4 separate regions of the Homo sapiens genome follow, and regions 1, 2 and 3 are each linked to region 4. The links come from fine-mapping of genetic effects on gene expression. A gene starts in region 4. Each other region holds a variant in brackets. All regions are shown on one strand. Distances are from middle to middle.

Region 1 (7,714 bases), 44 kb before region 4:
TGATATGTGTGCTAGAAAAACTTCATTACCATGTTTTGTGATATGTAATAAATTCAGGGTGCTGTGCTTAAGCTTCATGTCAATTCTAGTTTGGGAACATCTGTTTCCCTCACTCCCAGTCGTGGGGGACAGCCTGACCTGGCCCTACCCAGAACACATGTGAAAAAGTAGAGTCAGTCCCTGACTCTTATGAGGTCTGTTTTTTCCTGCCTGGAACAAGCAGAATATAATCATGATTTCTGACTCTCTGCTTCTGTGTCTGGGAAGAGCGATTCTTCTCTCCTCCTCTAATGTCTCTTTAATAAATATGTTGTCATTATTTGTCTTTGGAAGTGGCAACTTGGGCCACCTTTCAACCTTCTCCATGATTTATGTTGCAAACAAATTCTCTGTCCCATGTCTGTTCATTGCACTATCTTGTCGACTAAATCCTAATCTTGTGTATCACTGAAGATGTGCTGGAGACAGTTTTTGTTTCTATTATGCAATTATGTTATATGTGTATTTCAGTGAAATGTCAACCCGTCAACAGAGGATGATGTTAAAAATTATCCAAATAAATAGTTTTCTATTTCTTTTAATCAGACCTAGTCCAATCAGTTGAATGACAGTAAATAGGATTATATGTTGTTTAAACTTGGGAGCATTTCTGGCCTTTACTGCCTTGTAATATGGATTAATGTACCAAATTTACTTGGGGGTGTTGACTTAAGTGCATTATAACCTATGTTTATTTTGTGGAAGCAGCAGCAGGTGTCTTAAACCTTGTCTTTTTGTTTGGGAGCCTTAGATATGTAACCGAGTTTTCTTCCCAGTTGATCCAAAATCAGAAGTGAACCCCTTGCTTAGCTCACCATCCCTTGATGATGTACCCTAGGAAGCTCTGAATGAATGAAATGCGGCTGTTTAGTACTGCCGGGTATGACCTTTCTTCACGTTCCTGCAGCTGTGCTGTGTAAGAGCTTTTACCAACATAGCATTACAGTTGCCTTCTTGATGTTTCCATGAGAATGGCAGGTGGGTCCACCTCAGAACCAAATGACTTCCCAGGCTCAGATGTGCTGAACTCGTGGATCCTGAGAGAGGGAAAGTGTGTGTATGTGTGCGTGTGTGTGTGTGTGTGTGCGTGTGTGTGCGTGTGTGTGTGCACGTGCACGCACGTGTATGCACAAGCATACCCACATGTGCATATGTGTACACACATGCATCCTGAGCCTGTGATCAGAGGGACAGGAGAGCAAGAAGCAGCCTCCCTGACCACCCCAAGAACTGTCTTGGTTTGACCCGGGACATGACTGTCTGTCCCCTATAAGATCTCAGCATTCCTAGTCAGGAAGCTTAAAGCTTTCATTCCCAGCTCTTCCTTCACCTTCAGAATTCACTAAATGGAAAGATCTGCTGCTCTATCTTCACAGAATGGTTCAAACCAAACCCAACCTGGCACCATTTTTAGCAGAATTGTCTCAAAGGCTTGGTGCTTTTGTGCACCAGGCTATTTTTATAAGGGCCTCTTGGGAAGTTCCTGTGTGACTTTACATTCTAAATTATCATCACCAGCACTGGCATTGGCAACTGCAGGAGACCAGTTTTGAGCATCCCCAGACCAGTGGGACCCAGCCCTGATGGATCTGGCCAGACTGCAGCCACCATCCCCTCCTCCTCCCTGAACCACTTCTGGGCATCTGTTCTACCCCATGCTTGTCTCAGGGATGGTCATCATGCCTATCTGTCCTTGCCACAGCTGCCCACATGCTAAGAGGTGTTGTGGAGGAAGGACAGGGAAGCGGTCTCCTCTCCGAGGACCCACCACTTAGTCCAGTTTTCCTTTGCAAACCACCCTGAGGTTGAAGCATTTGCTGCACATCCATTGTCTTAGCTGTTCTCCAGGCCTTTAGGGCTACAGAGCTGTGGACAGACTGCCAGTGAGTGAGGAGGGGCTGCCTGGATACAGGACCGTAGACCCAGGGCAGAGAGGACATGCCTTCTTCAGATGCAGGACTTTCTGTGGAAAAGAATAAAGTTGCCATACAGTCCCTATTAGTCTTTAACTCAGCATACTGTTTTCCTTCAAACTGGTGGTCAAAACATCATCATTCTCTCAGAGCTGGAGCAGTACCTTCCTCCATGCACCATGCATAAGCATCTTGGAATGCTTCCCTAATGAAGTCATGAACAATGGAAGGGCTTATCCTGGGCCCTGTCTCAACATAGCAGGGACCACAGTGAGGAAGGCAGCTGTGAGGGCGCCAGGGGAGATGCAGAGTATCTGTGACGGGCCCAGAGGGATCTACCAGGGGTGTCTTCTGGTGGGTCTTGCACTGCCTGCAAAGGCTGATAAGCCACTTTCAGTTTGTTGTGATCTTCAAAAAGCGGACCCCCTGTTGGTGAGTTCTCAGCCTGCACACAGGCTACAGGCCAGGGTATCCTGATGACCACGGTGGCCGGGTCGGTGTGCGTGTCAGTCTGCTCCGTCGTGGTCCGAGTGTGCTGGTGGTTGCAGTGTGTTGTGTCACTCACTCGTTCCATGGCTTTTTAGCAGAACCAGTGGCCTGAGGACTGCTTGGTCTGCTTGTGCCTCTGGCACCTACACCTAGGCTTCCTCATCCTAGATGCAGCAAGGGAGTCCACATCAGCCTCCCTTTAGATCGGCCAGGCTGTGCTCCTTGCCCTGCTCTGGGCTTGGAGAGATAGGGCTCTTGTAGGCGAGCCTACTGAAGACTGTCACTGAGACAGGGGCATAAGCTCTTGGCCTGGCAGATCCTAGCACTAGTAACCAGGCAGTGTTCCTTGGAAGTGGGGGTTTTGCAAAGGAGGTTACGGGGTTGCAGGCCTCAGGCATCCTACCTAGGACCTTCTTGACCCTCTGGATGCCTGACCATACCAACAACCCTTAGACTGCCTTCAGTGACATCAGTCAGTGCCCTGGATTGGCTTTTGGGGAAGCCTTCCTCCCCACCGCTGAATCAGGAAGGAGCAAAGCCAGGACCCAGGCTGGCCCCAGGGCCCATGTGTGGTCTAACCTGTTCTGCCATTTTCATTGATCTAGGCGGGATTAAGGACACTGCATGACATTGGGCCAGAAATCCGGCGTGCTATATCGTGTGATTTGCAAGATGACGAGCCTGAGGAAACAAAACGAGAAGAAGAAGATGATGTGTTCAAAGTAATTATTCCACGCCTAGCTACACACTGGCCATCTGGAAATAGCAGGGCAGGACTCCAGTTTGGGCAGTTAATCATCCACAGAAGAGTCTGGAGAATGCAGCCCATCCCCAGGGCCTAGAGGGGCTTTCAGACCACACCCTCCCCCTCTTACAGACCCTCCCCAGGCATCAGCACCTCTTCTAGGGCCAGGCCAGCTCTTTCCCTGAGCTTACCCAGCTTCCCCTCACTGCCTGCTTCTGAGGAGCTCGGCCACAGCCGCTGGCCCTGTGGATGAGCATCCTGAGTCCTTCCGGCAGCTGCCTTTGCTACCCTCCTCCTTCCCGGGCCAGCTCTTTGATCTGCCAGCTGGCTGTCAGTCCCCCAGCCCAGAGAGCATGCCCAACCTTGGGGCCACCAGCCAGCCCAGCTGGGTATAAGTCACCCCAACTTGGAGCAACTGGAAGAGCACACTCGAGTGACAGCCGACAGCTTGCTCCCCAGCTCAGGAAATCGGTAACCTTCCTCATCTCGGGGGGACCAACTGCCACACAGTCACATTCACCCTGATCATTGAGACACTCAGATTGTTTTACAGGGATCCTACGGAGCTTGCCTAGAATTTGTTTTTCATGTAGAAAAAGTTACCTAACATAGCTAGTCTGCATCAAATACTTGTTAAATTACCTGGTGTTGTCTCCCATTATTTTGCAGAGAAATGGTGCCCTGCTTGGAAACCATGTCAATCATGTTAATAGTGATAGGAGAGATTCCCTTCAGCAGACCAATACCACCCACCGTCCCCTGCATGTCCAAAGGCCTTCAATTCCACCTGCAAGTGATACTGAGAAACCGCTGTTTCCTCCAGCAGGAAATTCGGTGTGTCATAACCATCATAACCATAATTCCATAGGAAAGCAAGTTCCCACCTCAACAAATGCCAATCTCAATAATGCCAATATGTCCAAAGCTGCCCATGGAAAGCGGCCCAGCATTGGGAACCTTGAGCATGTGTCTGAAAATGGGCATCATTCTTCCCACAAGCATGACCGGGAGCCTCAGAGAAGGTCCAGTGTGAAAAGGTAACCTTGACAATGTGTTTGGACTTGCTCATGTGGTGTCTGCCCGTGTTGCGTCTAGTCCCAAGGAGCAAGGCGGGTCTGTGCTCTGTGCTCTGGGGCATGGAGGAGGTTCCCCGTAGGCATTTGTGTCAGGATCTGTGAGTGCCCCCCAGGTCACTGCTGCCTCTGACACTCTCCACGTGATGGACCTAAAGGATAAGGGCCACGTGCCATCCTACATCCTGTGTGGGGTGCCGAGGGACCTTAAAACAGCAGCAGCCACAAAATCCACCTCTCAATTGTGCTCACATACTGTGCGACAGGGGTTGGTGAATTGTTTCTCTAAAGGGTCA[G/C]TGAGTCAATATTTTAGGCTTTGAGAACCATACAGTCTTGCACCTTCTCAGCTCTGCCGTTGCAGTGTGAAATATGTAAGTGAATGGGTGTGTGGCTGTGCCCATTAAAATTTCCCTATGGTCACTGAAATTTGAACTTCATATATTTGCATATGATGAGATATTTTTTGTCTTCAGATTCTTTTTTATGTTTTTCAATCCTTTATAACAATAAAACCCGTTCATAGCCCATGGGTCATACAAGGCCAGGTGGCAGCCCCTATGTGGATGGCGAATCATAATTTGCTAACCCCTACTCTAGGAGGTAGCCTGATGTTTGCATTGTAAATTTGGTTGGAAATTAACTTTTATCTTCTCCCTCCTTCCCATGTTATGCCTTTCCTGGATAGAACCCGCTATTATGAAACTTACATTAGGTATGTGCTCATTACCTGTTTTTGTGTTAAATACTGTGATGGTATGTTACCAGCTGGCCTCTCTGAGTGCTGAAGAATGAGAAACACTTCTTTGAGCCAGCCTATTAAAGGTTATCATAATTCATGGCTGTGGACTCAGAGGTCAGAGGTTGTTGCTTCTAAGCAAAGGCACCTTCAGATCCATATCTCTGTCGACTCTGTTGCCATCCAAGGACTGGTGTCCACACACAAGGTGCACCCCATGGGCTGGCTCCTGCAGGCCTCGCGATGGCACTAGGAGCATCCATTGTGCATTTACAGGGGCCTCAGCCTGTGTGGCTGGCAGCTCCGGCTGCTCTCTGGGGTCAAGCTTCTTGTGGGTGCTTTGCAGCATGACCCAAACCTCCTGAAGGTCAGGAATGGGATCTTGTCATTTTCCCTGTAGCCCTCAAGATATGTGTAGTATATTCCACTCCACATGTATTGACCTGAGTTGAATTGTGGGCGGAATGCCCATTTTGTTGGGGGCCAAGGGAGGATGGGTCTTCCTGTGTCATGTTATGAAGTGAAGTCGGGAGCCATGTGGGCCCAAGTTGGGTGCAAGAAAGTGGAGAAGTCAGAGGAAGTGCCATCCTTCCTTTGGAGAGAGGATTGACATCACCACGTCCTTCTCTGAGGACTGAGGCCAGGATGAGCCGGGTTTCAGGGAGACTTACCACATTCCTGGGGCAGGGCAGCCTTTGGAAACATGGTGGACATGTTCTGTGACAGTTTCCCCTGTGGCACTGTATCCAGAACTCACTCGACCTTCCTGATTTGATACAGCAGGAGGTCAGTGGCCAGGAAGCTCCTTTGTTCCAGGTTCTGAAGTCACACTGGGCTGGAGCTGGGGGACTAGAAGGAGAGGGAGGGATCAGAGCAGATGCCCTGGGAACCCAGGGTCTTTTTCCCTAGGTCCATTTTTTTGTTCTGTTCTCCAAATTGCACCTATTCCTTTGGCTCCAAGGCCTCTGGACACAATGGTTTGACACCAACATTGTGCAGGGCACTGAGAGAGACCCTATCCTGGCCCGCAGGCACACCACACACACAGACACACACACGGTGCTGTTGCCAGAAGCCGGAACAGTCCAGTGCTGCCTGAGGCAGGTGCGCGCTGGGAGAAGCCAGGAGCACCCGGGCAGGGTTGCCGGCCACAGGCAGAGGTGCAGCTGCAGCAGGAATTATCTGCCGCCTGCCCAGGTTCTCAGATCCTCTCTCCCAACTGCAGGTCCGACTCAGGAGATGAACAGCTCCCAACTATTTGCCGGGAAGACCCAGAGATACATGGCTATTTCAGGGACCCCCACTGCTTGGGGGAGCAGGAGTATTTCAGTAGTGAGGAATGCTACGAGGATGACAGCTCGCCCACCTGGAGCAGGTGAGCTGCTCTGGCTCCTGTGGAGAGCGGGAGGCCGCCCTGCCCTGGTGCTCGGCCCACTCCGGAAGCCAGGGCCACCGGCAGCTGCACTTGGGCTTCCCCTAAAAAGCAAAATGGGAGCAGAAACTCCAGGCCAGAGGGAGAGTGGAGCTGGAGAAAGAGAGCCGCAGAGAGGCAGGGTGAGGGCTATTCTTTCAGACCTGTTGCCTTATTTCCACTAGGGGCCTCTGAGGCCTTTTAGTGAAGGCTTGGGAAATGGGAGATGGGCCTGCTTCGTGGCTGGGTTAATGCCTTTCCACCACCCGTCTTTGGAGAGATCAGTTTTTGCTGAATTAACACTTGGAGCTCTGGCGGCCCCAGGGCTCTGTGTGGACGGCGGCTTGGCCAGCCTGGAGCTGGGCCAGGTCCTCATGCACAGCACCTGCCTCCTGCCACTTCAAGGGGTCTCTCGGGGAGATGAAGAAATGAGGGGTCACTCAGCAGAGGGGTCCATCTTGCTTCTGTCCTACAGAAAGAATGTTTGTTAGTACAATGGGCACTCTGCTTTAGGAGGCGTAGCAGGCGGCACAGGCGGATGAAAATCGCCCTCCACCCTCTTCTCTGAACCGCACCTCACTGTGACCAGGGGCCCAGTGAAGTGGAAGTGGAATGGCAGTGAGGTGGCTTCTGGCATCTGAGCCACAGCCTGACCCTCACCCTCTGCTCCCGCAGCCCTTCCCCGTGCCTCTCTCAAATGCCTGACTTCTGAAACCACTGACTCTGAGCCAGATGAACTCGTGTTCCCTTCTCTAGGGCTTTTGCTCACACTGTGGCCCCTGCTTGGATGCCCTCACTCCGTCTGCTGGCCTCATCCCCCCTGTCGAGGGCCTGCTCTAGGGCCTTGCTTTTTATTTCCATGACTGGAATTGAAATCCCTCCCCCAACCCCCAGAAAAGAAAACCTCACGAACCGCATGAGTTCCTCTCTTCCAGCACTGGCCCTTTCCAGCTCGCATTTGATTTCTGTGTGCTCATGGCATTTTCTAAGCCCATTGAGGGTGGGGCTCATGCTTCATGCATCTTGGTGTCCTTGGTGCCCAGCACCTGGCAGAGGGAAGGCACTCAGGAGAGGGGCTCTCACGGAGGAAATGAGTGGGTGAGAGCCTGGCTCACAGGACATCTGCGATCCACATTTGCCCTGGAGCTGAGGGATCAAAACTGCCAGCACATCCCTCAGCACAGGCCTCCAGTCCTGTAATGGCCCTTGGTCTCCATCTGGAATCTTCCATGAAACTGAGGCCAGCCTTGTTCTCAGCCAATCCTACTGTGTCCAAGGGAGGAGGCGGGGAGAGGAGTATGGATGTCA
Region 2 (7,714 bases), 88 kb before region 4:
TTCATAGACATTTTGGTGGTATCTGCATTGTGCTCTGGTCAAGGCCCTCAACATAAAGCCCTGCCAGAAGAAAGGGTGAATTCCCTTTATCCTGAGCAGAGGAAATGGATATGTTTTCCCCCTTCATCATTCAATCATCCTCATCTTGTCACAGACCCTCCTGCACTTTGTGGGAGTTCACCACATGACCTTGCAATGCCGGTGGAATTGCCCAGCGAGGGTGCTGGGCTGTGGAGGATGCCCACAGGGGCACAGAGGGCTGGGAGCCTCCATGTGCAAGCATGTGAGATCGTGGCTGAGGCTCTGAGAACGGTCCCTCTGTCTTCATCCATAGCACTACGAGCAGTCCAAGATGTTCAATGATGCCATGGACATTCTGAACATGGTCTTCACCGGGGTGTTCACCGTCGAGATGGTTTTGAAAGTCATCGCATTTAAGCCTAAGGTGAGTTGCAGAACCCACTTTTCAAAGGTTGTTGCTGAGTCACCCTAGAGAAGTACCCGCTTCCTGTTAGTCTTGTGTTACTGAATTATGCTAAAGTGTTCTGGCCGCTAACTGGGTTACCACCTGAGAACATTAAAATCTGATTAGAGCATGTGTGTATATATGGGAAAATGAATCTGCAAGAACAAAACCTCATGAAAACAATTCTGAGAAACAGAAGCAGGGAGATTAGAATTGGGAATTTGTAAACTGCAGATTATTTTGAAAGCCAGTTTTCTGTTTCTAGAATAGTACATATCATGCTGTGTCAGGGAAACCTGCCTCATTACTTGAGCACTAGAGAAAATGTTTGAACATAACCCATCAGAAAGAATTTGACCCTGATTATACTTTCAGATATCTAGTCTAAAGACTTTGTTTTGTTTGTTCTTGGTCTGCAGCATCCTTTTTACCCTTTAAGGGAAGTGCTGATACCAGCTGCAGACCTCTCACAGCCATACCATCTTTTGTTTGCTTAATTTAGAAAAATTTCACTTGACTTTAACACAAAATGAGACATGAAATGTGTTCAACTGTGCTCGACGACTCAGCGTGTTGTACCCCTTTGGGAGGGAGTGAATTCAGTTCCCCACTTGTCAGTGGCTGCCAGATGAGGGGCAGTGTAGTTCAGTGTCAAATTGCATAGTTGTGGAACTGGACTGGATTCAAATCTCTACTCTGGCACTTACAGCTGAAACAAGTTCCTTTCTTCCCTGCGCCTCGACTTCCTCACCCATAAAATGAGGACGCTAATAGTGCTGTTTCATGGGGTTGTCATGAGGAGTAAAGAGTTCCCATATACGCACTGCTTAACAGAGTGCCTGGCATGTAGCGCCACGCTGCGGACTGTCGGCCACTGCTGTTCCTACCCGCACCACCACCCTCATCATCATCAAGCAAGGATGTTCCCTCATTCTAAAAGCCTAGACAGAAGAGCCACACCAAGCTGAAATGTGGGATATTTGGCCCTCATTTTCTTTCCCAGTACAGCCAAAAACTCTCAGAGTTAGAGATGACAGAGTTCAGTGACCCAGTTAGTTATCTCTGTGTAAGGTATCTGACGACACTGATTTAATTAAGTTAGGCATGGATTATGAAATGGATGGTTTCACATACTCCATAGTTACATGAAATTCTAATTCCAAACTGTTCCTTTCTTTAATTTGAATTAATCTCTATGCAATCTTTATCAGATCTTTGTGGACCAAAAAGAAAGGACATTTGTAAGTGATTAATTGGGGTGATTGCAGTGGGGTCAAATTTGGCACCTAATGCATGGCCAGATGTTATTATCTACTGTGACTTGTCCATATCTACATACATAAACATTTCCTCCTTTTCCAAATTCATCTTAATTTCCTTTGAGATTTTGGTTTGCTTCCCTCTCACCTTTACTTCTTTGAACAATATTTGTCTGGACTGATGGAAAAGGTTGCAAAGTAAGAACATCGAAGGTACTTGAGAAATGCAACATGGAACCTCTCTGTGGAACATTTCCCAGATACCTGGGCCATGTCTTCCCTTGCCAGATGATTAAGCTCTGAAGTTTTTGAAAGCTTGCTCTAGGCTGAAGAGAAAGCACACTCACCCATGGTGTGTATGTGTGTGTGTCAGTGTGTGTGTGTGCACATGCGTGTGTGTTCATGTGTGTGCTTGCTCCCTTCAGCCGGCCAGTGCATTGACAGCCCAGTAGTGCACTGCCCAGTAGGCTGACAGTTGCCCAGAAGATCTCCAAACCTGGGAGGAGAGTTCAGTAGCGCGTGAACAGATAGGCGATACCAAAGGGAAGTGAGTAGCTAAGCTATAATCAGTACTGATAGATCGGAGTTTTTAAATGGTTGATTTTTGCTGGAAATTGTACTGCTTGTAGTTTCACTCAGCAAGATATCTTCATAGCATTAGACAACCTCACGTTACAATTGGGAGAACTTTTAAGACAGTAGCAGCAGCATCTCCACACTTGAAGAGCACTGTCACTGCGTTCCCCCCGGCCAGGGGAGGTTGAGTTTATATCGTGTGCCGGGATGAGTGGGAGAGTATCGGTTCACCAAGAAGCAATGCCCTCCTTAAAATTTTTCCTGCCCTTTTTTTCTTGCTCTTCTCTTTGGTGTTCACAAGCCCAGCCCGAGCAAGTGGTCTTTCACAAAGAAGCCAGGGAGGCCTCCTCCCTCCTGGTCGGTGGGGTAGTCGGGCTGAAGAACAAGGTTGTCAAGGCTGCAGAAGGAGGAATATTCTGAGGAGATGGCCACATGGGACCTCAGCCTCCTCTCAGGAGAGCCTTTGTCTCATGGGAGGAGCTTTGTAAAAGGGTCCCTCATGGCAGAGTTCTCCACTGAGTCAGGTACACCTTCTAGCAGGACTCGTCAGTATCTCTGTTAGGGGACACAGGCTGGCAGAGTTTCAGTTGCTTCATAAAATAAGTATAGAAAGTGAGGTAAGACAAAATTCTTACTGGTAGGTGAGAAGGCATTTCAAGAGGGAACGGTTAAAGAAAGTTGAGAAATCTGACCTTAAGGACTTATTTTATGTAAGGGAGCTTGATGGAGAAACTGGGCCTCCTAAGAGAGTATATTTAGAGGGAAATGGCCCAAGGTCATGGGAGATGAGATGACCCAGCCTCTGCCAACCCAGAGGGAGGTGGGAAGTAGACAGAGGGAGAAAACTCCGAGCTGGAAGCCTCCATGATGGAAGAGGCCATCTCACCTCAGGGGAGGAGGCATTTTGGAGCACTGGTCAGGCAAGAGTGGAAGGTAGTTAGGAGCCGAAGCGCAAAAGCATCCGGGAAAAGCAAGCAGGTGATTTAGCCGATTGTGGGTTCCCGAAGGGAAAGTTCACCAGCTGGGTGTTGACCTGGTGCAGCCTAGGTCCTGCTTTCAACTTGGGGTCAACTAGACCTCTGTAGGGTTTTCAAAAGCAGGCCCTAGTTTAGGTGACACAAGCCCCATTCTCCAAGCCTTTCCCTCCAGCTGCTAGAATTCTCCAACAAGTTCTCTTGCTCCAAGGAGGAAGATTGATTAAGAAGGGCCTTTTTCAAAGTGCTGGCTGCAGCAGGTATAGAGAGCACTTCTGTGGAGTAAGAAGAGCCTGGTCTGTCTGGGATTCTCTTTGTGGGATGTTACCCATCTGGCGTTTTGTCCAGGCTGCATTCTAGGCCATGTTGTTTGCTGCGGTTACTGGCCTTCTCCAGTGAGCCATACTTCGTTCCCATCTTAGTCCTTTAAAGTGTTTTGATCTTGATTCTACCCTGAAAATATACTAATTTATACTCCTAGCTACTTGGGCTGGAAAAAGTAAGGAGAAATTAGGTTTGGGGAAAGAAGAAAGTGTTTTGGTGCTGTCCTCATGCTGCTGTGCAGAGCTGATGCAGAATGGGCACTGAGTCCTCATCTGCCTTCAAGGGCTCTGTTCGCTGCTCCAGGGTCCCTTGCAAGAGTAGAGCTTCTTCATGATCTTCCTAGAGTACCTTTTCCACCTGCTGGAGAGAAAATTTGACACTGTTTTTTTTTCAGTTCTTCATGACCCCATCTGTTCTAGATTTACTTTTAATGGCAAATAATACTTGAAACCAAGTATTACTGTCCTTAGAACTTTACATTGGGCTTCTTGTTGGGCTCCATCCTGTCCTTTTGACATTGAGGTTTCCCAGAGCCCTCTCCTGGTCCCCTTCTTGCCTGGTAAGATGCATACATGCCAGAGCGTCAGTGGCCGCCTCTGTGGCATGCAGACCTGCACTGCCCTTCTCTCTCCTGAGCTTCTATGCCTCCCTGCCTTCAAAATGATCTCCCTGCCTCTGGCCTCAGCCCTTCTACCTACTCCCTTTGTAAGCCCAAAGCTGACCAGACCACTCTTGCAGTGATATTTTGGCACTGGCCACCTATTGCTTGAGAAAGCATATACAATTTTCTTAGTCGAATATTCAAAGTCCTCCATGAAGCACTGGCCCCTGTATATTTCTGCCTCATTTCCTGCCATTCCCTCCCTGCTATTTCTTCGTCCCCACCCCATCCCCA[G/A]GTGTTGGCATGCTAGACCTTTCCCTGCCCATGCGCCTCTGTCTAGATACCCTGCTTCCTCTTTGTTATCCTTGAAGGCCTGTGGGAAATGTTATCTTCTCTGAGACAGCATCCTCACCCCAGCCAGAGCCAGCCCTGTCCTCTGCTCATGCATCCGTTGGGGGCCTACTATGCACCATCGTTACCAACACTACTCCATGTCTGCCTCTCTGTTTGTTGGTGAGCAGCTGCTTGAGGTCTCAGGCTGAGTCTTCTGCTTCTGGCTCTGTGGTACCTCACATGATGCCTGGTGGTAGCTTCCTGGTGGTAGCTCAGTAAGATTGGTGGAATGAAGAAAGGAATAAAGGGATGATCCTGGAAGTGCAGCCTCTGGGCATGAGACGATACCTGCTTTTCTGTCGCAGGGTATCTGGGTAGAGCAGAGTGGAGCACATCTTCCCTTAATTCCCCGCTTACCTTTGGAAAGGCTTTTGCTAGTTAGAAAGCTGTCAGGCATAGTTTCTACCAAAAGTTGGCACTTTGGGTTATCACTTGGGTCAAATGCTACCCAAATAATCCCTGCCAGCATGGGTAAGAGATCTGGCTGCCATGATCAATGACAAAAGGCACATTATTTATATAGGCTTCTACCGATCTGCAGATGGGAGTGAATCCAGGCAGCAAAAGGAATCTGAACTTGGGTCACTTTTCTTGTTTCCCATTTGCAACCGTTCCACAAACATTGCCCCCTTACCATGTGCAACGCCTGTGCCATATCCTGGCAAGAGGGCCAGGAATAAGAGATGTGCCTTCCAGGAGCCCACTGTCCAGCAGGAGACAAACATTGATGGATGGTGACAATAGGGTTCTTAGACATAGTGGTGCTTCCTGACCCTGAGGCCCACATTAGTCTGGTTTATGATTTTAAATTTCCAGAGTCAGAAATGTTTCTGCGCAATACATATTGCATGTGGCTGACTTGTTTGGTCTTTTCAGACAGGTAGAGCTGGACACAAAAATAATATAGATTTGACTGCTGGTTCCACTTGAGAGGTTCTGGCCTCAGAATTCAGTTGTAGGAGAACACATCATCATAGGCCAAGAGGAGAGAGCAGGGAGAGGGGCCCTCTGTTAGGAGCCGTGTCATTTCTTGTATCTTATCTTCTGGTTACAAAGGCAATATGGTGCCTTTGGTGGGAGAAGGGTGGGGGAACTGAGTCATGCCACTTGACGGTGATTTTATTAAACAAGAGGCTACTAAATAGGGAAACAGTATGTGGGAAGAATGGGAGGGCTGACATTTTCTCCCTCCCCTGGACTCCTGTCAGAGCCACCTGGTCAGAGCCTGTGATTTCAGCCACCTGCCTTCTGCTTCCTAGATTAAGGGTGTCAACCTTCAGTCCATCAATCATTCCAATTTGGGCACAGTTTTATGAGTGTGAGGGGTTTCTGGAGAGAGAGTCAATGAAATTGCCAAAAAATTCCAAGACCCCAAGGAAATATTAAGCCCCTATTGTGTTGATTTAAACGGATTTTATCCATCACAGTGCACCAGCATTGAGAATATCTTATAGGCTGATGGAAATGGCCTGAAGGGGAGAACACTGATAATTCTGGAGAGAGGGAGAGAGGAGCTGTTCAGGAATAAAATCTCAAAGTCAGAGGCTGGCCTCCAGCACCCATGTGGTGGGTTTGGCCTTTGGGAAATGACATAAATAATGGAGAGAAGCGGCGCACACGGTACAAATGCAGGCGGGGCTGGGGCACGCACCACAGCAGGTGCGAAGGGCGAACGCTGGGTCTCCTCCGCCTTGTCAGTACTCTGGAGGTCTAGTTGCTACTTGTGACCAAGTTTTTGATCAAGGTGTAAATTCCTTCCTAGAGGGGAGGGGAAGGATCACTGTGCTTTCTTTAGCTTTTGAGTTACTCTTAACTCCATGAAGAAAAGGGCAGGCTCTGCCCCTCCAAGTGTGGTCTGTGGCACTGCCACCAGTCAGAGAACTGCTTGTTATCCATTCGCAACAAGAGCTGTCAGCTCTAACACTAAGCACATTGATTCAGCTGGCTTTCTTGTTAGGAGACTTCTTGGACGAAGGAAACTGCTGTGTTCCCTTACAACCTGAGGCTAGCTCTTGATCTCACCTCTGACTGCTAGTCTAGACCTCAAAGGCAGCCCATCTCTGCTCAGTTTTGCCAGCCAAGAATCATGAATTCATGCAAAGGAAAGCTAGAAAGCATAAGCTGTGCTGTTTTTAAAATAGCCCTTCCCATTAGACTTTTATACATAGATCATCAGATTTGGGGCTCACAAATTCCTTTTGTCTGCTGATAGATGGGCCAGGGAGGGTAGCAGTCAGTGAGGGTAAAATGGGAGAGAGGCACTGTGATCATAGGGCGGGGAGAGAGGTGGAGAGTTGGTTAGAAACCACGGCGGTTGGGTGGGGGAATCTTACATTATTAAGATTAAATTTAAGAAGCAAACCCGAAGTCAGTGTCGTAGCTCCCCCATAAATGCACCTAGACTGATGGATGGTGACTAGAATAAACATCCCTACTCCAGCTGTTAGGACAGTCAGTACGTCCACATCTTCTATACTGTCGCAAAAGGCTGTGGTTCTGCAGTGGCTTCTTCTGGGTCTGTGTTTGATCACAAGTTTCTGGGACCTGACACCTCAAAGTACTTTTTGTTCTGGTTTTCTTAATGCAGCACTAAATGTACCCCGTTGTAAACAGGCTGGGCCCCATTTTATATAATATGTACCTGAATTTTCATTTCCAAAAAGCGTCCAGACTCTTTGGAAAAACACAGTTGGTTTATAGACAGAGCTGTTGATCTTGACAGTCAGTCCGTTGCCTCTTTGGCTGTCTGTGCAGTATCTCCCCACCACCCTCTCCAACCGGGAGCTTCCCAGGGGTGTCGAGAGACCACAGGCACTCATTTAGCACCTGCTGTGCTGATGCTGGAAGAAGATGTAAAATGTCCGGCACATACATATAGATTTTAAGTTACAATTGTGGGGATGTTGTACCCTCAAAATTGTTGCAAGATAGCAGGACCTGAACAAACAACCAGACAAAGCTGGATGACAGGCAGGGTGCAAGTTGGTGGACAAAGGGGACATTGCCCATGTCAAGCACTGACTGGGTTCAAGGCTCTGGCTAGATAATGGGGTTAGGGAAGTTGGGGGACTGAATATGCAGCACAGTCATCATCCTTCAGGGCTTTTGATTGGTAGAGCTG
Region 3 (7,714 bases), 21 kb before region 4:
GGTTACTGGTAAGCGTGCTCACCTGTGAATTTCCAGAGCCACTCCAGACCAATGCAGACCTTCCGCAGGGGCTTCTGTGCTGAATGGAGGGTGATAGGGCGGGTGCATGCCTGCTGAATGTAGATCTCCAGGTGGTCTTGCAGGTTCTGGCCAACCCCTGATACGGGAAGGAGTGGTTTAGAAAATGGCTACCAAGGGGGCTCAGCTGCTTCTCAATATCCCCCCGGTTTTGAAAAATTCTTTCCTATTCCCTTATCTTCTGGACCAGCTCCTGCTCAGTTCCCTGGTCTCAGCTTAAAGGCTGCCTCCCAGAGACACTATGTGTGCACTCCTGGCCAAGTCTGGCCTGCCTCGGATGCTGCCAAGGCCACCTGTCCTTGTCACTCACTCCTACGGCAGCCTCTGGGTGCCCCTTGTCAGCCCTGCTCAGCAGCCCCCTCTGTGAGGGCAGGGCCTACGCCTTCAGCAGGCACTGCTTGGTGAGCGGTTGCTGGATGGTGATGGCCAGAGGGGCAGACAGCAGCCCCACCCTCACGCCAGCGTGGGGAAGGAGGAAGCAGCCCTGTCGTGCTACACCGTCCTTGCATGAATTCATCCAAGCCTACTGGGACACTGGGCAGGTCAACATCATGAAGCAGCACTTCCCCGGGCCCCTCATGATGAAGCCTAAAGGCACAAAGGCCTAGCCCTCCCGGAGTGGGGTTATCAAGGAGGGCAAGAGACAGAGCCCGACCCTCAAGAGCATCAGAGACAGTTTATAAAACAAAGTTTACATCTTAACATGAAGAGCAGGCTCTGGAGCACGGAGCTGACCTCATTCATGCTCAGGGCAGCCAGCGAGTCCTGTGGATGGAAGGACGAGGCCTGGACCCCTCTCGCCATAGAGCTGCCCTGGTGACACGCCCATGCCCGACCCAGTGGGGCTTCAGGGCAGATACTCCCTGCTGCAGGGTGCCCTTCTCCAAATGAAATAGGGCAGCCGGAGGAGGGAGAAGGAAAACAATGCAAGACTCGGGGCCCAGGGATGACAGTGTCCAGTGAGGCCTGGGAAACCTTCGGGCTCTCGGGGACAATGTGATAGTTCCAAGGATCACTGACTGCCACCACCTCCCCACTTCATGCTAATAAGATACATACACTAAGCCTTTTGTTGAGCAGAGACAGCCTCTGGGGAGCAGTAAAGAAGGGGACTCACCAGGTAGGTGGCACACCACAGGGATGCCCAGTTTCTTGAGGTCATCAGCATTCCCGATGCCAGAGAGCATGAGCAGCTGTGGAGAGTTGATGGCACCTCCACTCAGAATCACCTCCTTGCTGGCATAAGCCTGGAAGAGGTCCAGCCAGGTCACTCCCTGAAAAGCCAGCTGTTCTCCTGACTCACAGACCAGCGCCCTACTCTAGCCAGCACCATGAGAACACAGCCTTGGGATGTAGAATCCTGTGGCACACCCGGGACAGGCCCCAGAGCTAAGGAGAGGAAACTCACTGAGTCACTACTTGAAAGCAACCAGCAGGTGCAACTACAGCTGGACAGTAGTGACAGCCTTAGAAACAGGAGGGGAGGGCTTACACGAGATAAATGAAAGCAGGCATTCAAGTGGGTGGTTTAGAGAGAGCAAGCGGTGAACCAGATCTACACATGAAGCTGCAAAACAATCAGACCCCCTGCCAACAACACAGAAATAGAGTACAATCACATTTATGGGTTTTAAAACCTCTAGTGTAAACCTATAGCTTTAAACCTATAGCTTTCTGTGACATCGGTGCCTTGAAATGGTGTGGAAGGTACTGGGGGAGAGCTCTGAATTAGGCATGGCACACAGGGGCACTGACACCATAGGCCCTTTCTCGGTGGCAGGACTAGGGGCTTCTTCACCTCCACCAGCCCACTGCCATCAGCTACTCGCCCCTCCCCCCGCCATCACAGGGATGAGCACGTGGGTCTGGGGGTGAGGGCGTGACTCCTGCCCACTCTGAGCTGGACCACCAGGGTCACTGCCCACCCCCTTCTTCCAGGACCCCAGCTGCAGTCCACTCACCCTGTGGCTCTGGCCATTCTTGACATACTCCACGCCCACTGCACGGGTGCCCTCAAATAGCACCCTGCTCACAAGCGTCTCGGCCTCGGCCTTGAGGTTGGTGCGGCTCAGTGCTGGGTGCAGGTAGGCACAGGCCGCGCTCCACCGTTTGCCTGCAGGATGGAGTGAGGTGGTCAGGCATGGCTCCGCCCTCCCCTGGCACCTGGGCAGGAGGAAGGAGCTGGAGAAAGAAAGAGTGGATATGCCCAGCTCTGACTGCAAGTCCCGCCTTCAAAGTAAAGCTGAGACGGAAAGACCCTGCAAGACCCTGCCCTACTGAGTCCACATCTGCCTGGGGTCCCCTGGAGGCAGGTGGAAAAGTACCCTTCACCCTCAAACAGGAGGACACAGAGACCAGGAGCACAGCCAGAGGGGTGAGAGCCTTCAAGAGGCAGGCAGAAGCCCCGGGTCAGCCCTGGCTCGCCTCTGTCCTGCTGTGAGCAAGGCCCTTCACCACTCTGTGCCTCAGTTTCCCCATGTGCAAGTCCCTAGAGGAGTTAGGCTCTCTGTCCAGAGAGCTGATTCTCTGTTATCCACACCAACAGGGGCCAGAGGTGCAGAGAACGCCCAGGGTCACCATCCTGGGTCACTCTCAGGGCTCCGGGTTGTACTCTTGGAGGGGTATACTAAGCCAGATCTCTTCCCGGTCGTGCCAGCCTCAGTCTGCCCATGCCTCCTGACCATGCTGGAGCCAGGAGCCTGGAGCCACGGGCCAAGATGGGTGGGGGCTGGGGTAGGGGGTAGTGCTTTTTTAAAAAGAGAAGGGAGACCACTACCTTCATGGATGGTCATGTCCATCCAGCCGAAGCCCTCCTGCTGGAAGCCATTCATGTCCTCGGTGAGCGGGTAGCCGGCCTGCTGCGTGGCCTCCAGGAATGCGCAGTGCAGCGGGTGGTTGGTCTTGCCCCGGGACACCCGCAGCGGGCCATCGGCGCCCCGGTACCGGCTGGCGCCCAGCTCGTGGCCCTGCGCCTTGCGGAAGTAGGGCAGGCAGTGCGCGTAGTCCCAGCCGCGGGCGCCCTGGCGCTGCCAGCGCTCGTAGTCCTCGGCGTGCCCACGGACGTAGACCATGGCATTGAGGGATGAGGAGCCACCCCAGACGCGGCCGCGTGGCCAGTACAGCACGCGGCCGTCCAGGCCCCGCTGCACCTCTGTGTGGTAGCACCAGTTGTACCTGTCGTCGCACAGGTTGGCCACCAGGGCCGCGGGCATGTGGATCTTCCACGAGAGCCGCTTGCTCCCCGCGAGCACGTCCTTGGGCCCGGCCTCCAGCAGCAGCACGCGCTCGGCGGGGTCCTCCGTGAGCCTCCCAGCCAGCACGCAGCCCGCCGAGCCCGCGCCCACCACCACATAGCTGTAC[T/G]CGTCCCGGCTCTCAGAGCCTGCGCTGGCCAGGGCCCGGGCACCCAGGGATTGCTGCTGCCCCAGGGCTCCCCGTGCCAGGGCTCCAGGCCGGCCCAGGCCTCGTAGGAGACACCACATGCTTCTATCTAGTCCAAGTCCTCTGATCCACGGAGGGGAATGAGATGACTCACTTCTCCCTAAAACAGGAAGAGGGGCTTTAAAAATCTTAACTCCGCATATCCAGGGTATGCTCACCAACGGCCTGCCGGGACAGGGTGCAGCAGGCCCAGCCTGATGTGGCTGCTCAAAGGAACTAGGAGGAGGAAGTGAGGGACACACAGGAATTTCAGAACTGTTTTGTATGTGCCAGGATGGACAGGCACAGGCCAGGGGATGGGGCAGCAGAAAGGCCCCTCCCCCAACTGAGGGGTAAAATGCTTCCCTGTGCCCTGTGTATGAACCTGGAGACTGGGCTGGAGTCTGCCTGCTGGAAGGCAGGGGGGCAAAGGGCTTTCCAAGGGAGAAAGAAAACAGAGTATTTGTACTCATCCCTTCAAGACAGTGGGCTCAGCCCCTACCATGTGCTAGGCACTGTTCCCTGCCCCACCCAGTTCCTGCAGCAATACACAGAAAGACATCTGCTCTCAAAACGGATGGTTTAGGGCCTGGGAAAAGGACAAGACTTAAATAACTGAAGGAAGATCAGCATGAGAGGCACGAGACTGTAGAGCTCAAAGCCTTTGACCCGAGGGGCCATGGGGAGCACTAGAGGGATTTGAAGCAGGTTCAAGATCAGAGCTACACTCTTCAAAGATCACTCTGTAGAATGCTAGCGTTTTAACAGAAAAATGGCAATAGCTTTGAAAGGGCCCTTTCCTAACAATGTTCAAATCAATCCCAGCATAGTGCACAGAGGTAGAAAAGAAACAGGATATGTCATGAAAACCTCCATTGAAAAGAACACCTGAGAACACCCCACCCGTGAGGCTCAGACCAACAAGGCCTGCCCAAGACAGGCTGAAACAAAAGGAAACCCTGATAAATCTCACCACCCCTTCCACAAGCCCTGCACCAAGTAACAGCAGCCTACCACTGGAGTGCAGAGGCTCTTTCTCCTCCTCCCGTCCACCGTTGCACAGGCATAGGAGACAGAGGTGGCGGGGCCTCCTGAATGGTATGTCTGAGGCTGCTGGAACACTGAGAAGAACTCTTCAGAGCTCCAGGCCCCACACCACTCCCCACCAGACTGACAACACTCCACACTAACAACCCAACAGAATGAAAGACAGGTCCTTTGCTAGGTATACTGTTTACCTCAGTCTCCACTATCCCATTACACACAAGGTCTAGCATTCAATAAAAAATTAGGATACATACCAAAAAGCAAGGCAAATAATGACTCCTTATCAAGAGATAAAGTAGTCAACAGAAACAGACCAAGGAGTAATGCACCCAGATGTTAGAACCCATCAAACAGGGACTTTAACCAAGGTGAGCATTATAAAAGATATAGTTGAAAAGGTGGACAGATAGGAAACTTCAGCCAAACAATGAAAACTATAGAAAAAAACATAAATGCAAGAAAAAAATACAATGTTAGAGAAGAACAATTTTTAATTGGATATAGCACAGAAAAGAATCTGGAAATATAAAGAGGGGAAGAGAGAAAAAACAACCAACAACTCTGGGACAATATCAAACTAAAGTACAGATAACTGGAGTCTGAGGGGGAAATAGTGGGGAAGGAGGGCAAGGCGGAAAGAAGAGACAGAGAACAAGGGAGGAGAAATATTTGAAGAGATAATTGCTGAGACTTTCCCAAACGTAGTGCAAGACAAAACACTATGGATTCAAGAAGCTTAGAGCATCCCAAGCAGGATTAGTACAAAGAAAAACACATCTAAGTACATCATAGTTAAGCTGCTGAAACTTCAAAATAAAGAGAAAATCATCACTGTAGCCAGACAAAAAACATATGCAGAGGAATAAATATAACAATGACAGTAAAATTCTCAGAAAACATGCAATCCAGAAGATAATGGAGTGACAACTTTAAATATTGAAAGAAAAAAAAACCTCTAGTCCTAGTTTACTGAAATTGAAAAATTATACCCAGGGAATACATCTTTAAAAATAAATTAGATGATAATTTAGATGAAATGGACTAATTCCTTGAAAGATACAAGCTGCCAAAACTCACACAAGCAGAAAGACACTCCAGATAAGCCTATATCTATTAAAGAAATTGAATCAATAATTGATAACCTTCCAAAACAGCACCAAGCTTGACTAAGCTCACTGGTGATTTCTATCAACCATTTAAGGAAGAAATTATACCAGTACTCTACAGTCTCTTCTAGAAGATAGAAACAGACGATTACTTCCTGACTCATTCTGTGAGGCTAACATCACCCTAATAACAAAACCAGACAAAGACATTACAATAAAAAAAAAAAACCACTACAGACCAATATCTTTCATGAACATAGATAAAAACACTCAACAAAAATACTAGAAAATTGAATCAAAGTATGTATAGAAAGAATTATATACCACAACCAAGTGGGCTTTATCTCAAGTATGCAAGACTGGTTCAACATTCAAAAATAATCAACAGGCTGAAAAAGAAAACTCACATGATCATATTAACAGATGCAGAAAAAGCATTTGACAAAATTTAACATCCATTAAATGATAGAAACTCTCAGTAAACCAAGAGTAGAAGGAAACTTCCCCAACTTGGTAAAGAATATCTACAAAAACCCTACAACTAACATCATACCTGACGGTAAAAAATTCAAAGCTTTCTCACTAACCAGGAACGAAGCAAGGATGTCCCTTTGAACCACTCCTTTTTAGTATTGTACTGGAAGTCCTATCTAATGCAGTAAGACAAGAAAAGGAAAAGGTACAGATTGGGAAGGAAGAAATGAAACTTCGTTTGCTAATGACATGATTGTCCATATAGAAAATCTAAAAGAATCAACAAAAATTCCTGGAACTAATAAGCAATTATAGCAAGGTTTCAGGATATAAGGTTAATATATAAAAGCCAATTGCTTGCCTATATACCAGCAACAAACAAGTGGAATTTGAAATTAAAAACACAATATCATTTAAATTAGCACCCCAGGCTGGGTGCAGTGGCCCATATAACCCCAACACTTTGGGAGGCTAAGGTCAGAGGATCATTTGAGGCCAGGAGTTTGAGACCAGCCTGGGCAACATAGAAATACCCCATCTGATATGGTTTGGATTTGTGCCTCCACCCAAATCTCTTGTCGAATTGTAATCACCAATGTTGGAAGAGGTGACTGGATTATAGGGGCAGGCTTCCCTCTTGCTGTTCTCATGATAGTGAATTATGAGATCTGGTTGTTTATAAGCGTGTGGCACCTCCCCTCCTCTCTCTCTTCCTACTGCTCCAGCCATGTAAGACATGCCTGCTTCCCCTTCACCTTCTGCCATGATTGTAAGTTTCCTGAGGCCTCCCAAGCCATGTTTCCTGTAAAGCCTGTGGAACCATGAGCCAATTAAACCTCTTTTCTTATAAATTACCTAGTCTCAGGTAGTTCTTTATAGCAATGAGAGAAAAGACTAAATATACCATCTCTAAAAAAAAATAACTAGTAAAAAATAAAGTAACTGGGTGTGGTGGTGCATACCTGTAGTCCTAGCTTGAGGCTGCAGAGAGGTATGATTGAGCCACTGCACTCCAGCCTGGACTACTGCACCTCAGCCTAAGTGACAGCAAGACCCTGCCCCTAAATAAATAAATAAGCATCACAAAGAAATACTTAGGTATAAATCTAACAAAATATGTGCAAGATCTATATGAGGAAAACTATGAAACCCTGATGAAATTTAAAAACTAAATAAATGGAGAGATATTTCATGTTCGCAAATTGGAAGGCTCAATATTGTCAAGATGTCAGTTCTTCTCAACTTCATCTACAAATTCAATGCAGTCCCAGTCAAAACCACAGCAAGTTATTTTGTAGATATTAACAGACTGGTTCAAAGTATATATGGAGAGGCAAAAGACACAGAATGGCCAACAAAATACTGAAAGTGAAGCGCAAAATTGGAGGACTGACACTAACCAACTTCAAGATTTACTATAAAGCTACAGTAATCAAAACAGTGTCATATTGGTGAATAGATCAATGGAACAGAACAGAGAGCCCAGAAATAGACCCATATAAATGTAGCCAACTGATCTTTGACAAGTCATCAAAGGCAGCACAATAGAGCAAGAAAGTCTTTTCAACAAAGGGAGCTGGAATAACTAGACA
Region 4 (7,411 bases):
CTGCAGACCCCAAATCCACCAGCTTAGGAGGTTGGCCACAGATGCCAGGACAAATCTTCCCTTCCCACTGTCTGCTGCGCCGACTCCAGTACTTCCTATAAACACATCACAGGCGCTGCAAAGCCTGTTTGATTTTCTGCGCTCATTGGCACACTTCCACACCAGTACAAGCAGAGCCACTTCCAGCAGACACCTCTGTCACCCAGGCTGGAGTGCAGTGGCAGCTTCACAGCTCACTGCAAGGTCCAGGTTGTGTGCTGGGTGCCCCTGCTGGTCAAAGCACCTTGGCCAGCCAAGGTTAGCCAGCCAATTTTCACACACATGCCCACTGCTGTTTCCTCTTCAGACTTCTGGGTGGGTTTAACCGCAGAGGGTCCTAAGATTGCAAGGTGAGTGTTTGAAAAACTGACTGCTTCTTTGTATCAACTGGAAATCACTCTATCACTAAAGTACTGAAATTAATCAGGAGCTGGGACTAGTGTAAGACATCAACCTGCACCCATGGCCCTAGGTTTCTAGTGTGCTCCTGAAAATGGTATCGCTGTTCTAACTATGATACACACACACACACAAATCACAAATATAAAGTTATAAAATAAACTCACAGGCTGGGCGCAGTGGCTCACGCCTGTAATCCCAGCACTTTGGGAGGCCAAGGCAGGAGGATTGCTTGAGGCCAGAAGTTCAATATCAGCCTCAGTAACATAGCAAGACCCCATTTCTAAACAATAAAAAAAGAAAGAAAAAATTAGTCAGGCATGGTGGTGTGCACCTGTAGTCCCAGCTACTTCAGAGGGTTGCTTGAGCCCAGTGAGCGGATTGCACCACTGCACTCCAGCCTTGGCAACAGGACAACACTCTGTCTCAAAAAAAAAAAAGAAAAAAGAAAAAAAGAAAAGCGCAAAGCTAAAACCAAACCACATAGTGATTTTATCAAGTTCACAGCTGGCCTGAGTTTCATCCTCCCTCTTCTTACATAGCCTCACTCATCTTGTTTCTTCCTCCATAAAGTGTGGAATGTGATGCTACATCTACGACCCATATATTATTAATAACAAATAAATTCAAGTATCATGGATCAAAAAATATACCACCGATCCTGTTGCATGTGCCCAACATACGGCCCAACGTAGGGTGACAGGGTGATCCTCCCTGCAGCCCTATGAGGCTAACTTCATCACCCCTGTTTACAGATGGAGCTTTGAGAGAACGACAACAGTACCTGTCTCCTCTGCATCCGAGGCTTTCTTTGAGACCCCAGTGTGATAACAACAATGTAAAAATCAATGCAAGTACCCAGGAGACAAGGCACAGGGACCACAGCCATGAACAGAACACATGTATGTGACCTCAAGGGGTTTCTCCTAGGAACCAGGAGGAGTGGGATTAACGCTGAGTTAACACCTAGCCTGAGTCTGCGGGCTTTCCTGGGCCAGCCCCTCCTACTAGAGCAGAGAAAATGTGTTTTGTAGCCCTGCTGGGAACAGTGGGGTGCAAGCCCTCAGTGTGGCTTCAGGGTCTTTCCCTCAAAGCAGGCATTAAAATTGACCCTGCCAAGCTTAACCAGCTGGAGCAGAACATGGGGTTGAGGGAGCACCGAGGCCAGGAGTGCTCCCAACAGTTCCTCTCCCAGCTCCGGCTCACCACCAGGGGCCCTGGGAGACAGCCAGTATGTGCCAGAAACGGCTCACTCTTCACGAGACAATGAATCCACTGTTGACCAGCCAGGGCCTTGATTAATATTTGCAAAAGAACGAACTGGAAAATTCCACCTGTGTGGGTGGAGGCTGGACCCGCAGGACTTGTCAACAACCCTGATGGCCTTGTTCTCCCAGGGATGGATCAGGCAAAGAAGCAAAGGTCGGAATAACAATGACAGAATCTGGGGATTACCGTGACTCTTGGGTCCTAGGGAATTTCCCCCCCCACCTTTTTTTTTTTTTTTTGGTTCTGCCTCTCCTGCCCCTAAATTTACACAGCACTCTTAAATCCTTCAACTTGCTTTCCTATCTGCTGTTTTGCTGTTTCTTCTGCGTTTCCTAACAGCCCTGCTGGGGAGGCAGAACTGATGTCAGCCCCATGTTACAGATGGAGAAACAGGTTCCAAAAGACTAAGAGCCTCACTCAAGGCCAACAGATGGTGAATGAGCCGCAGAACCAGGTGGTCTGGAAGCCAGGCATCTCACCGCGCTGTGGCTGCACAGAGTCTGTGCAGACCCTAGGGTCTGGGTCAGGGCCATAGGTACTTGACCCAGTGATCTTCCAGGCTCTGGCAGAGGCCCTGACCTTTGCTCTGCTTGTGAAGAAAGAGGAGGAAGTTCAAACCAGCTCCCCTGGGTGGGCAGGCTCAGGCACTGGCCTTGGATGAAGGTAGGTGTTAATTTATTCATCCATTCAAGCATTTAATGAGCACCCCCTACAAAGCCCCCCCGGACAGGAAGGCACACTGGCTGGTAGCTCTTTCAGAAACCCAGACCTAGCAGAATTTATGACTGAAGGGAGAAGGTCAGAAAATGTCCAAAGGTCGCTTCTCTCATAGACTCAAATCACTTCATCGCCCCTATCACCACCCCATTTTACAGAAAAGGAAACTGCTCTGAGAAGAGCAGTGACTTGCCAGAGCCTCCAGTTCAAAAAGCCACAAAGTCATCAGGCTTAGGCAGCCAAATAAATTGTGTGCCTTCCGGCAGGCCACCTGGGACCTCTCATGCAGGGCCACTTGAGGCATGGCCTTCTGAGCTAGGGGGGAAAACCCCCGAGGGGACAGGCAGACACACCTGTTTGCCCACCTCAACCTCCAGTTGTGGCTACAGGGCCCTTCACACCCTCTCCTCCACTCCACAGCCCCAACTACGAAACTGAACCAGGTATCACCCCATCCCTAAGCCCCAGGGGGCCAGGGCAGTGTCATTCTGAACCCAGAACAGCAGGAAAGCCACTTGGCCTGGGTCTTGGGTCTCTGCCTGGCAGCCCCTGCCTGAGTACTCCTCCTTCTTACAGCTCAGCCACCTCCAGACCACCCTCACCTGACACTTCTTCCCCTGGGGGGAGAAAGAACCTCAGCCCTTCTCTTTTTACAAAACCCCCTCCCCTATCCTTTTGCCAAGGCTTCCTGTGACTGCCACCAACCAGCCTCAGTGCCCTTGGTCTCTCTGCCCCATCTGACCCCATGAGCTCCTCCCTCACTACTGGGCTTTCCTGCTGCAGCCCCTTAGACCTCCCCACCTCCTCAGGCAAGCTCTCCTCCCCAGGGCTCTATCCTCCTCTCCTCTCCACTGCCCCCTGAGAAAGTCTGACTCATGAACCCTGTCTCCAGGCCTAACCTCCGCACCCTGGTTGTCTCAAAGCCTGTGTGCCGAACAACACCAAGCTCACAGCAGGGCCTGCCCTGGCACACAACTGAAAAGCCAGCACAGCCCAGAGCCTGGCCCACAGCACAGAATCAGATACTCACGGAATGAACGCATGTTAGTGAATGGCTGCCTGCTCGCTCGTCTCAGAGGGACTAGCCCTCTATTTTGCCCTGCAGAGCCAACCAGGTGGCCTTTCTAAAACCAAAAATGGATGACCATTTAAGCCTGTACCATTGTTCCTCAGCACCATGGGACAAAGTTCACAATCTTGAGCTTGCAGACGAGGCTGTTTTCATCTGGGCTTCCGCAGCAAGGCGGGTACTTGTGTCCTTGAAAATAATTCTCACTGCACTCATCCTCACTCCAGGAGTACCCATCAGCCAGCACCCATGTGTGGTTCACCTTTGCACCCAGCAGGTATTTGCTGAACAGGAAGATGACTATTAGAGCTGAAAATGTTCTCAAGGGCCACAGGGCCCAAAGCAACTCAGAGAGGTGGAATGAGGGGCTCAGGGTGGCCCAGTCCCAGGCAGGGGTGCGGCCACAACCTCAACTGAGTTCCTTGGTCAGGAAACAGAGCAATTCTCTGAAAATGCTACCTGCAACTCCACACGTATGCATGCCAGAGCCCAAACCCCTGGCTGATCCCCAGTCCATGCAAGCCTTAATCAAGCTGGCAGGTGGGCCAGGCCTGGCACACAAGTAGGGCCTCAGCTAAAACAGCTGCTTGACTTAGTACAGCCTCTCACCAGCTGACAACACACCCCTAAGTTCCATACCCCTCTCTAGGCCTCCGTCTTCTCATCTGTAGAATGGAGCTAATTCTGCCTACAAGTTTAAATGGCCCTGAGTTGGTCACCACAACCCTGTCGTTTGCAAACCGAGGGGGCTGAAGCAGCAGTTCCAGCCTCTGTGACTCCACTGTTAGCCCAGCTGATTTTTGTGAACTTTCCCCCAAACCCACTGTGTCTCAAAGGATGGTCCCTGGGCCACCCACCCACGAATTACGGGGGCGTGGGTGGAGGCTCGTTAAATGCAGATCCCGGGCCTGACCCGGACCTGCCGTCTGGATCTCATTTTAGGCGGCGCTAGAGATCCCGGGCCAGGGAAACTTGAGAACCGCAGCTCCAAATCGCCAGTGCTGACGGCTTCCGCTTTGGGAGCCCCAGGTGTTGCTGTCCGAACTCACTTGGTGGAAACAGACATTTACCAGAAAGCCTGGGGTCGGGCAGCGGGCACTCCTACCGCTCTAACCCCGCGTAGCTGAAAGAATTCGCTCCCTCAAAGGAGTCAGTGAGCTTCGGCAGTCTGCGTTCCACCCGTTTCGCTTCGCGCGGCGGGGCGATTGTGTAAAGCGGGCCCGGGTCTCGGCGTCCAGCCCGGCCCCAAACCTCCGGCCCCCAGGCCTCTCCGGGCTAGCGGCCGGGCGGCGCTGCTGCGGGGTGGTCGGGGCGCCTCCGCGGCTACTCACCCGGGGCGACTCGGCCGAGAGCCCGACAGTCGGGACCGGAGCGGGAGGAGCGGGTGGCCGCGGCCCGGCCCCTGCCCCGCGGCACTTTAACCGGCGGCGCCGGCGCCCCGCGCGCTCTCTGCGTCCGGAATGGGGACGCAGCAGTTCCGACCCGGTCGGCCCCGGAGCCGCGAGGCTAGCTGGGCTCCAGCGGAGGCGCGCGAAGCCCGAGGGCGGGTGCAGCTGATGCACCTGGCTCACTGCATGCACGTGTGCGCGGGGGTAGGCGCGCGCCGCGGCGGCCCGTGCTCCGCCAGCGCTCGGACACGGCCCATCCCTCCGAGCCCCAGCAGGCGAGGGCGCTGCGACCTGCCCCAGCCTGGGAGGGGGCCAGCGGGCCCGCCCTCTGTTCGGGTGGCGGGAATGGGTCGGCGCTGCGAGAGGCGGAGCCGAGAAGGGGCGGCCCGGCGGCGCCGGGATAAAAGCGCAGCGTGCGGGTGGCCTGGATCCCGCGCAGTGGCCCGGCGATGTCGCTCGTGCTGCTAAGCCTGGCCGCGCTGTGCAGGAGCGCCGTACCCCGAGAGCCGGTAAGCCCCCGCCAGCACCTCTTCCCTCATCTCCCGGCCCTCGAGCCCAGATCCTGACGTCGTCTGATCCGCCAGTCCAGGCTGCCCCGAAGGCGTGCGCGGACTGCCGGCTCAAGGGGCATGCCTGCACCCTCAGGGCAGCCCCGGACATCGGCGTCAGGTTGCTTGAGTCAGGGGCGTGGGAATCAGACAGACCCGGTCTCAGATGCCACCCTGTACTGTTGGTTCTGTCATTTATGCTCACCAAGTTCCAAGTCCCGAACGGTAAAACGAAGGGCAGTACCGAACCCACCAGGGTCTCTTAAGGTATAACGACATGGCCTGCAATTAGCGGCGAAGGGCCTGGCACGTAGTTATTGTTACTTGGGGTCTGCTCACCTGTTGGGGCACAAGAACTGTTTCTCCATTAGTACCCCCTCCCTTTTTGGCCATATTGATTGCCATGTTCACTCGTGAAGGCAGTTGCCTTTCTTCCCCAGTACCCTGAATGATCGAGGGAATCTTCTGGGTCACTGAAGAGAAAATAGCTCATCCCCCAAATAACCTTTGAAATGATACCGCTGCCCTCTTAGAATAGCATATAGCATCAAGCTCCGTAGTCACCTGCTGGTGGACAAACCCCATTCACTGTTTCCTGATGTCTTCAGCTCCTATCCTTCCCCTCTGTGTCAGTTCAGAAGCCCTCTTGGCTCTTTGCACTAAAGGGAAGAATTCATCCCTTTTGCTGTAGTTGCTGCAAGGCCAACAATTTGAGCTTGGTAGCATTTAGGGTTGTTGCTTGGCCTCTCACCGGCCGTTTGATAAGAACTCAGCTCCTGGTATGATGGCTCATTTGTTAAAAAAAAAAAAAAAAAGTCAAGTCTGGCCGGGCTCGGTGGCTCACGCCTGTAATCCCAGCACTTTGGGAGGCTGAGGCGGCCGGATTGCCTGAGGTCAGGAGTTTGGGAACAGCCTGGCTAACATGGTGAAACCCCGTCTCTACTAAAAATACAAAAAGTAGCCGGGCATGGTGGCAGGCGCCTGTAATCCCAGCTACTCCGGAGGCTGAGGCAGGAGAATCACTTGAACCCGGGAGCCAGAGGTTGCAGTGAGCCGAGATCTGCGCCACTGTACTCCAGCCTGGGTGACAAAGTGAGACTCTGTCTCAGAAAAAGGAAAAAAAAATCTGATGATATCCCTTAGAGTTCATTTTTTAAAAGACAAATAAATGATTGACAATTTTGCCCAAACTCAAATCATTCAAACCATCAAAAGGAGATCTTAGAAGGTGTTTGGAAATGTGGATGCTCAGCAGCATATTCCAGAGCTGCTGGACGTATCACATTGAGTCTTGTCATTTGAGCTTGCTGCTGCCTAAAGCCCCAATATTTTAGGTTCAGTATTTTATTCCAGAACCAAAGCACAAATTATTTTTTCTTATGAAAAAACACGAGCAGCTAACTTCAAACGATTTAGTACCAGCCTTTCTTGAACACTAATAATTGCTTATGGTTTCGTGAATTGCTCAGTGAGTCCTTTTGTGTTAGAAGGGGAACATTTTAAAGAACCTGAGGAAAGTACCATGGACTGCATTCAGAGCTTTCTTTTGTTTATCTCCTTAGCATAGCTACTCCTTAACCTGGGGTAGCCCAGTAAATACTCTAGGCCGTCCTAAAAACCTAGAGTTAAACATTAGAGTGTGAAGGGGCCTCACATCGGTCCCAAGTCATCCCCTGCTTGCAGCAGGGAAGGATGACATCCAGAGACAGATGGAGACCCACCTGTGGTCTTCAAGTGAGGTTATGCACTGGCTTGAGGATCAGGTATACTGATGGCTAATCCATGGTCCGTCATAGCCTACAGTGGGACAGCTTAGTTCCCCCCTAAGCTGTGAAGCAGAACCAGTTCATCTTTTCTTTGAAAGTTTGTCACTTGTATATGCATTTAAGGGGAAAATGGTGTTCTGCCTAATTTGGCAAAGGAAAGCTTGTGGTTTGCCGGCTTCAACGTGACGCTTGGTTTTTTCTCTCCCACAGACCGTT

What was found. PIP is the estimated chance that this variant, and not a neighbour inherited with it, causes the effect.
Region 1: its variant is the best candidate, but not a certain one, in a credible set for the expression of CHDH in putamen (GTEx, PIP 0.83).
Region 2: its variant is the best candidate, but not a certain one, in a credible set for the expression of CHDH in whole blood (TOPMed, PIP 0.88).
Region 3: its variant is the best candidate, but not a certain one, in a credible set for the expression of CHDH in nucleus accumbens (GTEx, PIP 0.78).

The regions. Positions count from the first base shown.
Region 1 is chr3:53,797,203-53,804,916 of GRCh38, forward strand. It overlaps CACNA1D (calcium voltage-gated channel subunit alpha1 D), which reads left to right. Exons shown (of 48, transcript NM_001128840.3): 41 at 3,047-3,163; 42 at 3,856-4,223; 43 at 4,945-4,971; 44 at 6,221-6,370. Among named protein-coding and RNA genes, the nearest start is that of CHDH, 45 kb to the right of the region's middle. RefSeq lists an enhancer at 7,290-7,714. The variant G/C (reference allele first, on the strand shown) is at 4,556.
Region 2 is chr3:53,753,238-53,760,951 of GRCh38, forward strand. It overlaps CACNA1D (calcium voltage-gated channel subunit alpha1 D), which reads left to right. Exons shown (of 48, transcript NM_001128840.3): 29 at 335-445. Among named protein-coding and RNA genes, the nearest start is that of CHDH, 89 kb to the right of the region's middle. RefSeq lists enhancers at 175-444, 251-750, 495-784, 875-974. The variant G/A (reference allele first, on the strand shown) is at 4,495.
Region 3 is chr3:53,820,452-53,828,165 of GRCh38, forward strand. It overlaps CHDH (choline dehydrogenase), which reads right to left. Exons shown (of 9, transcript NM_018397.5): 3 at 2,855-3,616; 4 at 2,040-2,191; 5 at 1,196-1,325; 6 at 23-157. The coding sequence starts at 3,557. Among named protein-coding and RNA genes, the nearest start is that of CHDH, 22 kb to the right of the region's middle. RefSeq lists an enhancer at 2,846-3,445. The variant T/G (reference allele first, on the strand shown) is at 3,439.
Region 4 is chr3:53,841,259-53,848,669 of GRCh38, forward strand. CHDH (choline dehydrogenase) reads right to left here and starts at 5,161. Exons shown (of 9, transcript NM_018397.5): 1 at 4,825-5,161. It overlaps IL17RB (interleukin 17 receptor B), which reads left to right and starts at 5,310. Exons shown (of 11, transcript NM_018725.4): 1 at 5,310-5,390; 2 at 7,406-7,411. The coding sequence starts at 5,331. RefSeq lists enhancers at 3,436-4,276, 4,277-5,117, 5,064-5,358 and a silencer at 4,709-5,358.